Linked DNA regions of Homo sapiens: regions 1 and 3 are each linked to region 2. The links come from fine-mapping of genetic effects on gene expression. A gene starts in region 2. Each other region holds a variant in brackets. All regions are shown on one strand. Distances are between the middles of the regions. Region 1 holds the start of LRRC52-AS1 (LRRC52 antisense RNA 1). Region 2 holds the start of ALDH9A1 (aldehyde dehydrogenase 9 family member A1). Region 3 has its middle 17 kb from the start of TMCO1-AS1.

Region 1 (2,772 bases), 120 kb after region 2:
ATGTATATATACACATATACATATATGTATGTATGTATGTGTATATATGTATGTATGTGTATATATGTATGTATGTGTGTATATGTATACGTATATACATATATGTGTGTATATGTATACGTATATACATATATGTGTGTATATGTATACGTATATACAATGTATGTATATATGTATACATATACATACATATATACATGCATGTATGTATATGTGTATATATACATACATATACACATACATACACATATATGTGTATATGTATACACATACATACACATATATGTGTATATGTATACACATACATACACATATATGTGTATATGTATACACATACATACACATATATGTGTATATGTATACACATACATACACATATATGTGTATATGTATACACATACATACACATATATGTGTATATGTATACACATACATACACATATATGTGTATATGTATACACATACATACACATATATGTGTATATGTATACACATATACATATGTGTATACGTATACACGTATATATGTATACACACATACATACGTATAGATGTATACACACACATACATACGTATAGATGTATACACACATACATACGTATATATGTATACACACACATACGTATATATGTATACACACATACATACGTATATATGTATACACACACATATACGTATATATGTATATAGACACATATACGTATATATGTATATATACACACATATATACGTATATATGTATATATACACACATATATACGTATATATGTATATATACACACATATATACATATATATAATGTATATACACACACATATATACATATATAATATGTATATATACACACACATATATGTATGTATATTTTACAGGCTTAATTAACTTTCTTTTTCTTGTATAAAAACCCTATGTTGTAGCTACAGCTGGAGCCTGGGTCCTCTGCACGGAGACTCTGGTGTGGGTCTTGGCGAGGTGGTCAGTGAATTCTTGATAGGGACACTTGGTGAATACAGCCGTCCTCCAGAGGTCAGGGGTCAGGTAGCTGTAGGTCTTAGAGATGGCATCAAAGGTGGCCTTGGCGAAGTTGCTCAGAGTGGCAGTGCAGCCCCTGGCTGAGGTGTAGCAGTCATCGATACCAGCCATCATGAGCAACTTCTTGGGCACAGGCGCCGAGACGATACCGGTGCCTCTGGGCACGCGGATGAGGCGCACGAGCAC[G/A]GAGCCGCAGCAGCCCGTCACCTTGCAACGGATGGTGTAGGGCTTGCCGATCTTGTTCCCCTAGTAACCTCTGCGCATGGGGACAATGGAGAGCTAGGCCAGGATGATGGCCCTGTGGATGGCAGTGGCCACCTCCTTGGAGCACTTAACACCCAGACCGACGTGACCGTTGTAGCCCGCAATGGCCACAAACGCCTTGAACCTGGTTCGCTGGCCGGCTCCGGTCTGCTTCTGCACCGGCATAATCTTCAAAACCTAGGCCTCGAGAGAGGCCCCCCAGGAAAAAATCAATGATCTCAGATTCCGTGATGGGCAGGGAGAAGAGACAGATCTCCTCCAGGGAAGTGATCTTCATGTGCTTGACCAGGCAGCCCAGCTTGCTGACGGGCATCCACTCCTTATCCTTGGCCTTGCCTCCGCGAGCTCCGTGGCTTCGGCCCCAGCCTGGTCCACGGCAGTGACCCCGGCCTCGGATGCCACTGCCGAAACCTCCACGGAAGCCACCATGGTTCCCCATCCCAGGGCCCCGGGGCCTCCGGGACTCCCCCCGCAACCCAATGCCGGCTGCGCCGGCGTCATCCGCCATTTGGTGTTTTCTCGGAGAAGAAGCTACATGTGGAATATATTAACGCAACAAATTGTGCGTACTTGCTAGACATTAGGCATGATAGCAAGTGCTAGGGTTACAAAGTATTGCTTTTTGGGGAACCCATGGTTGTTGGGGAGAAACCAGAAGATCAGTCATCACAGTGCGGCAAGATCAGACTTGTGGTTTGTTCAGGTTCTGGGAGCCGTCACTGCAGTGAGAATGGGTGAGTTGGGGCAGGCTGTGGTGTCTGGGAAATTTTAAAATAGAAGTGATACTTGAGCAAGAAGTTGAAGGATGAATATGGATTTATAGAATAAGCAGGGTGTAGAGACATGTGTGCATGTGTGTGTGTATTTCATAAAGAAAGACATGCATGTGCAAAGGCCTGGAGGCTGTTGATGTCAGCAGAATGTTCTGAGGAATGAGTAAGATGAAACAGATGAAACACTTAAAGGCATTTTTTCTCCATTAGTCAAGTCTAGGAGAGGCATTCAATGTCTAATGTCTAACTAGGGTTAGGATTTGAAGAATCTTTCTAAGATGTCTGGTCTTTTTTTTTTTTTCTTTTAGAGATGGGGTTTCACTGTGTTGCCTAAGCAGTGGCTATTCATAGGCACAGTTACAGCACACTGCAGTCTTGAACTCCTGGACTCAAACTATCCTCCTGCCTTGGCCTCCAAAGTAGCTAGGGCTACAGGCACATGTGACTGTGCCTGAGTAAGACGTCCCCTCTCAAAAGTCAGCAAATAAAAGGCAGCTTAGAGAAAGCCATGGTTCCTACCTGATCACCCTCCCAACCATCCTATGAGGATTTTACAGATGAGGACCCTGACGTTCAGTGGGTTTAAGTAATTTCCCTAAAGTCTCTGCTAGGAAGAAGGAGAACTGGGCTTTCCATTGGAGTCTGCCTCACTCCAAAGCCCACGACAAATTGTGAACATAAGTTCCTCTTTATCTGATGAC
Region 2 (2,772 bases):
GGAAGTTTGGTGAGAAGAATGAACCTTTGTGCAAGATCCCTCAGCTGACAGACCTGTGAGTGCCTCTGGGTGGCTGCTTTGTCTTACAGAAGGCATTTTGTTTCCTGACACTTTTTCCTGTGGCCTTTGCTCTTCGTATTCTGTATGTTAGGCTTCTGTTTCTATCAATATTTGTCATTAATAGCATTTACATTGCTCCTTCAGAATTTATTTATTTTGAGACAGGGTCTCGCTCTGTTGCCCAGGCCTGAGTGCAGTGGCACGATTATAGCTCACTGCAAGCTTGGACCCCCGGGGCTCAGGGGATCCTCCCACCTTAGCCGCCCAAGTACCTGGGGCCACAGGCGTGTGCCACCACACCTGGATAATTTTTTTTTTTTCTGAGTTTCACTCTTGTCACCCAGACTGGAGTGCAATGGCATAGTCTCGGCTCACTGCAACCCGTCTCCCGGGTTCAAGCGATTTTCCCACCTCAGCCTCCCAAGTAGCTGGGATTACAGGCGCCCGCCACCACACCCAGCTAATTTTTGTATTTTTAGTAGAGACGGGGTTTTACCATTTTGGTCAGGCTGGTCTCGAACTCCTGACCTCAGGTGATCTGCCCGCCTTGGCCTCCCAAAGTGCTAGGATTACAGGCGTGAGCCACCGCGCCCGGCCCAATTTTTATTATTTTTATTTTATTTTTTTATAGACACGGGATCTCTCTCTGTTGCCCGCAAACTCCTGGGCTCAAGCGATCCTCCAGCCTTGGTGAGAGCCACAGCGCCCAGTCTCTCTTTAAGAATTTAAAAAGCAGTTTCAGATCACAATATCATCTATCTCGTTCACAGTCCCCTTGCTTTTTACTGTCACCCTTTAAAAAGCATTATACAATTACAGAAACGGTGGTTTAGCAGTGAAGTAACCACCAAAGACTCTTGGCACTCCAATCCTCTGCCTTCTTCAGGCGATAGGATTAAGAATGGGATCCTAGGATGCTTACATGCAATGATGAACCCGAAAACACTTGCAAAGTGCTACGCAAATATTGATCACGAAGAAGGAAGTCCTCTTCCCGCCTGGAGACTGTGTGGGGTATGGCGGGGTGGTGGGGAGAATGTGGTGTCTTGCTCCACCCTCCTGGCGAGGGGAGGGCCTGGCCTGGACCGCAGAGGAATCGAGTGACTGCCCCTAAAATCTCCTAGAACCGATCCCGCGGCCCCGCCCCTCCCGCGGCCCCGCCCCTCCCGCGGCCCGTCAGCCTCTGCCGCGGAGCTGCGTCCGCCACTCATGTTTCTCCGAGCAGGCCTGGCCGCGCTCTCCCCGCTTCTTCGCAGTCTTCGGCCCTCTCCTGTCGCCGCCATGAGCACTGGCACCTTCGTCGTGTCGCAGCCGCTCAATTACCGCGGCGGGGCCCGCGTGGAGCCGGCGGACGCCTCCGGTACCGAGAAAGCTTTCGAGCCAGCAACCGGTAACTGCAACGAGCCGGGGAGGCTGGGGCGCCCTGGGGCCGGATGCGCGGATTTCCCGGCCAGCCCCCGTTTCCTGTGTTCTGCAGCGTTGACTTGAGCACAAGACAGTGACAGTGGAGAGTCTAAGGTTGTGTGTGTAGGCAACTAGCGATTCTGGGGCAACGCGAGTGCCTCCGGGCAGGGATGGGTAGGGAGGAAAAGCAAAGCTGATGAGTTGCGTGGTAGGATCGTGAGTTGTTTTACCCGGGCCAGAACAGAGTTCGCAAAGTACTGGTGGGGGAAGTCGTGCCTCTGTTAACTTCCTTTTTTGTTTGTTTTGTTTGTTTGTTTGTTTTTTGTTTGTTTTGAGACAGGGTCTCACTCTGTCGCCCAGGCTGGAGTGCAGGGGCACCATCTCAGAGCTCACTGCGCCCTCTACCTTACGGGCTCAAGTGCTTCTCCCGCCTCAGCCTCCCTGGTAGCTGGGATTACAGGCTCCCACCACCATGTCCGGCTAATTTTTGTATTTTTAGTAGAGACGGGTTTTCAGCATGTTACTCAGGCTGGTCTCGAACTCCTGAGCTTAGGTGATCCTCCCGCCTCAGCCTCCCAAAGTGCTGGGATTACAGCCGTGAGCCACCAAGCCCAGCCAACTGTTCCCCCTTTTAAAACCAGGACTGATGTATTATTGTCTTCAAATGTGTGCATAGGAGAGGAATTCTAAAAGAACGGGGCGGGGTTGTGGGGAAGATAATCATTTGTGCTGGGAATGAAGGAACGCTCACAGATAGTTTCTAATGACTACGAATGAGGACTTTGTCTCCACATTCTAATATTAAAATATTTCTGCACATTAATCAGAATTGGGAAAGGAAAAAACCCCACCTTTATTCAGTACTTTCTTCCCCAGCTTTATTGAAGTATAATTAACAAATAAAAATTGTATATACTTAAGGTGTAAAACGTGTTGTAATGTATGTATACCTTGCAAAATGGTTACCACGGTCAATCTAATTATCCATTGCTTCTGCATAGTTAATGGCTTTTTTTGGATAGTGAAATATTTAAGATCTATTCTTTTAGCAAATTTCAAGTATATGATGCAGTATTGGTAACCATAGTCACCATGGTCTACGTGAGCTCTCCACAATTTATTCATCTTGCTGAAATAAAACTTTTTAATCCAGTGCTTAATGTGTGCTAAGCACTGTGCTAGGCACTGGATTTACTCTGGGAACTCTGAAGGTCACAGAGATAAGGAAGAAGGGGCTTTTTGTTTTGGTTTTGTGTTGTGTTTATTTTGCTGGGTTTTATGGAATATATGTGGGGAGAAAAATGTAAA
Region 3 (2,772 bases), 88 kb before region 2:
ATTCTCTTATTCACCTCATCTTTTAATTATTTTGTTTGTTTATAACTGGCACATCTTGTTTAATTCTAAGAACCACAATATCTTTAATTCTATGAACCACCAATGCTCTTGGATTTGCTCTTTCTTCTTAATTTCTGCTGATACTACTTACTTGGTCAAGGGATTCCTCACTAAAAATTGTGTTATAGTGACAGCCTAATAGTTGGTTTCCCTGAATGTGATCTCTCTCCCAAATGAATCTATCTGATATAAGGCTTCCAGACTAATTTTTTTTTTAAAAAAGAAACACTGCTTGTTTTGCAAAATTCTTATGCAAGCTTAAGATGTTTCACTGACTTTCCACTATCACCAGTCTCCTAAAATTGGGATGCTTAAATGCCCAGGCAAAAGTGGCAATTGGTCAGAGGGTACTAGAAACCACAGGAGAAATGTGACACATTTTTCCAGAGTATCCATTTTATTTGATGCTGAGTAATTTAAAACATCACTCCCCCCCCCACCATCTTCCCCTTATTTATATCAAACAGATACAGAATGCATTTTCTAAGGCCCCTTCAGATGCACAGATGCATAGAATTAGATACATCATTATTCTCGACTCATGACACATTCTCATTGTTGGTGCATTCAAGACCCTCAATCCTTCATTCATTCATTCATTCATTTAAAATAATACAACAAATACACTTGACATTATCACCAACATGAAAACTAGGAAATGAATTTCCATTCATATTCACCTGTTTGATCTTCAGTTGTATCACCCAGCCTCTTCCCCATTCCAAGGTAACACTACTGAAATCATTCTGTTTTCCCTTTTAATGTCACATGTAAATATATTCAAAAAGAGTGGGGTTTTTTTGGGGGGAGGGAGTGTTTAGATGTTATTAACTTTATATGTAATCTTTAAGGACATATGCTTTTCACTTAATACTATATTGCTAGGATTAATCCACATTATGGCATATAATTATGGTACATTCACTTGGAGTGGATATAAATATATCCTTATTTATTTATGGGTGCACCTCCACTGCCCTGCAGGGTCCTGGGACACTGTGTGAGATGGGGAAGGTACTGATTTTTTATTTTTTGTAGAGGTGGTCCCTGTCCTCCAGGAGCTTCTAATTAATTTGTCTATTCCCTTGCCTGTTAATGGGCATTTGGGTTGTTTTCAGGTTTTGGTATTAAAAAGAGTGCTCACATGAACACTCTTGTATGCATGACCTGATACTCGTTAAAAAGTTTTTTTGAACTGGGGGCAGTGGCTTATTCCTATAATCCCAGCACTTTGGGAGGCTGAGGCAGGATGATCGCTTGAGCCCAGGAGTTCAAGACCAGCTTGGACAAGATAGTTGATATGGTTTGGCTGTGTCCCCACCCAAATCTCAACTTGAATTGTATCTCCCAGAATTCCCCCGTGTCGTGGGAGGGACCCAAGGGGAGGTAACTGAATCATGGGGGCTGGTCTTTTCTGTGCTATTCTCGTGATAGTAAATCTCACGAGATCTGATGGTTTTATCAGGTGTTTCCGCTTTTACTTCTTCCTCATTTATCTCTTGCCACTGCCATTAAGAAATGCCTTTGACCAGGCCTGGTGGCTCAGGCCTGTAATCCCAGCACTTTGGGAGGCCAAGGTGGGCAGATCACAAGGTCAGGAGATGGAGACCAGCCTGGCCATCATG[A/G]TGAAACCCCATCTCTACTAAAAATACAAAAATTAGTTGGGCATGATGGCGTGCGCCTGTTGTCCCAGCTACTTGGAAGGTTGAGGCAGAAGAATCACTTGAACCCAGGAGGCAGAGGTTGCAGTGAGCCGAGATCACGCCACTGCACTCCAGCCTGGTGACAGAGTGAGACTCCGTCTCAAAAAAAAAAAAAAAAAAAAAAAAAAGAAGTGCTTTTTGCCTCCCACCAAGATTCTGAGGCCTCCCCAGCCACGTGGAACTGTAAGTCCAATTAAACCTCTTTTTGGTTTTAGTTTCGGTTATGTTTTTATCAGCAGCGTAAAAATGAACTAATACAATAGTGAAACCCTGCCTCTACCAAAAAAAAACAAAAAAAAATTTGCTGGGCATGGTGGCATGCACCTGTAGTCCCAGCTACTAGCAGGGTGAAGTGGGAGGATAGCTGGAGGCCAGAAGATCAAGGATGCAGTGAGCTGTGATTGTGCCACTTTACTTGAGCCTGGACAACAGAGCAAACTCTGTCTCAAAAAAAAAAACAAAGTTTCTTTTATGTATATGCCTAGGAGCAAAATGGCAGGTCAAAGGGCATGGAAATGTTTATCTTTACAGGATAACGCCAAATTGTTCCAAAAGCGCTATACCAATTTACACTCCCACCAGCAATGATTAAGATATTCTGATGATCTGTATCCTCCAGATATGGGCCAACTTTAAACATTTCTTTAACATATATATATCAGGTTTACCATTTTAAACATTTTTAAGTATATAGTTCAGAGACATTCAGTACATGCACACTGCTGTACAACCATTACCACCATCCATCTCTAGAACTTATCTTCTTCAACTGAAATTCTGTATCTAGGCTGGGCGCAGTGGCTCACACCTGTAATCCCAACATTTTGGGAGGCCGAGGTGGGCAGATCATCAGAGGTCGGCAGTTCATGACCAGCCTGGCCAACATGGTGAAACCCCATCTCCACTAAAAATACAAAAACTAGCTGGATATGGTGGCGCATGCCTGTAATCCCAGCTACTCGGGAAGCTGAGGTGGGACAATAGTTTGAACCTAGGAAGTGGAGGTTGC

The links. PIP is the estimated chance that this variant, and not a neighbour inherited with it, causes the effect.
Region 1: its variant is the best candidate, but not a certain one, in a credible set for the expression of ALDH9A1 in whole blood (TOPMed, PIP 0.64).
Region 3: its variant is the best candidate, but not a certain one, in a credible set for the expression of ALDH9A1 in whole blood (TOPMed, PIP 0.73).

The regions. Positions count from the first base shown.
Region 1 is chr1:165,580,615-165,583,386 of GRCh38, reverse strand. It overlaps LRRC52-AS1 (LRRC52 antisense RNA 1), which reads left to right and starts at 1,232. Exons shown (of 7, transcript NR_026744.2): 1 at 1,232-2,032. It also overlaps the pseudogene RPS2P10. The variant G/A (reference allele first, on the strand shown) is at 1,221.
Region 2 is chr1:165,697,056-165,699,827 of GRCh38, reverse strand. ALDH9A1 (aldehyde dehydrogenase 9 family member A1) reads left to right here and starts at 1,266. Exons shown (of 11, transcript NM_000696.4): 1 at 1,266-1,450. The coding sequence starts at 1,270. It also overlaps the pseudogene CA14P1. RefSeq lists enhancers at 831-1,010, 875-1,457, 1,301-1,530 and a silencer at 1,081-1,270.
Region 3 is chr1:165,784,697-165,787,468 of GRCh38, reverse strand. No RefSeq gene overlaps it. Among named protein-coding and RNA genes, the nearest start is that of TMCO1-AS1, 17 kb to the right of the region's middle. The variant A/G (reference allele first, on the strand shown) is at 1,686.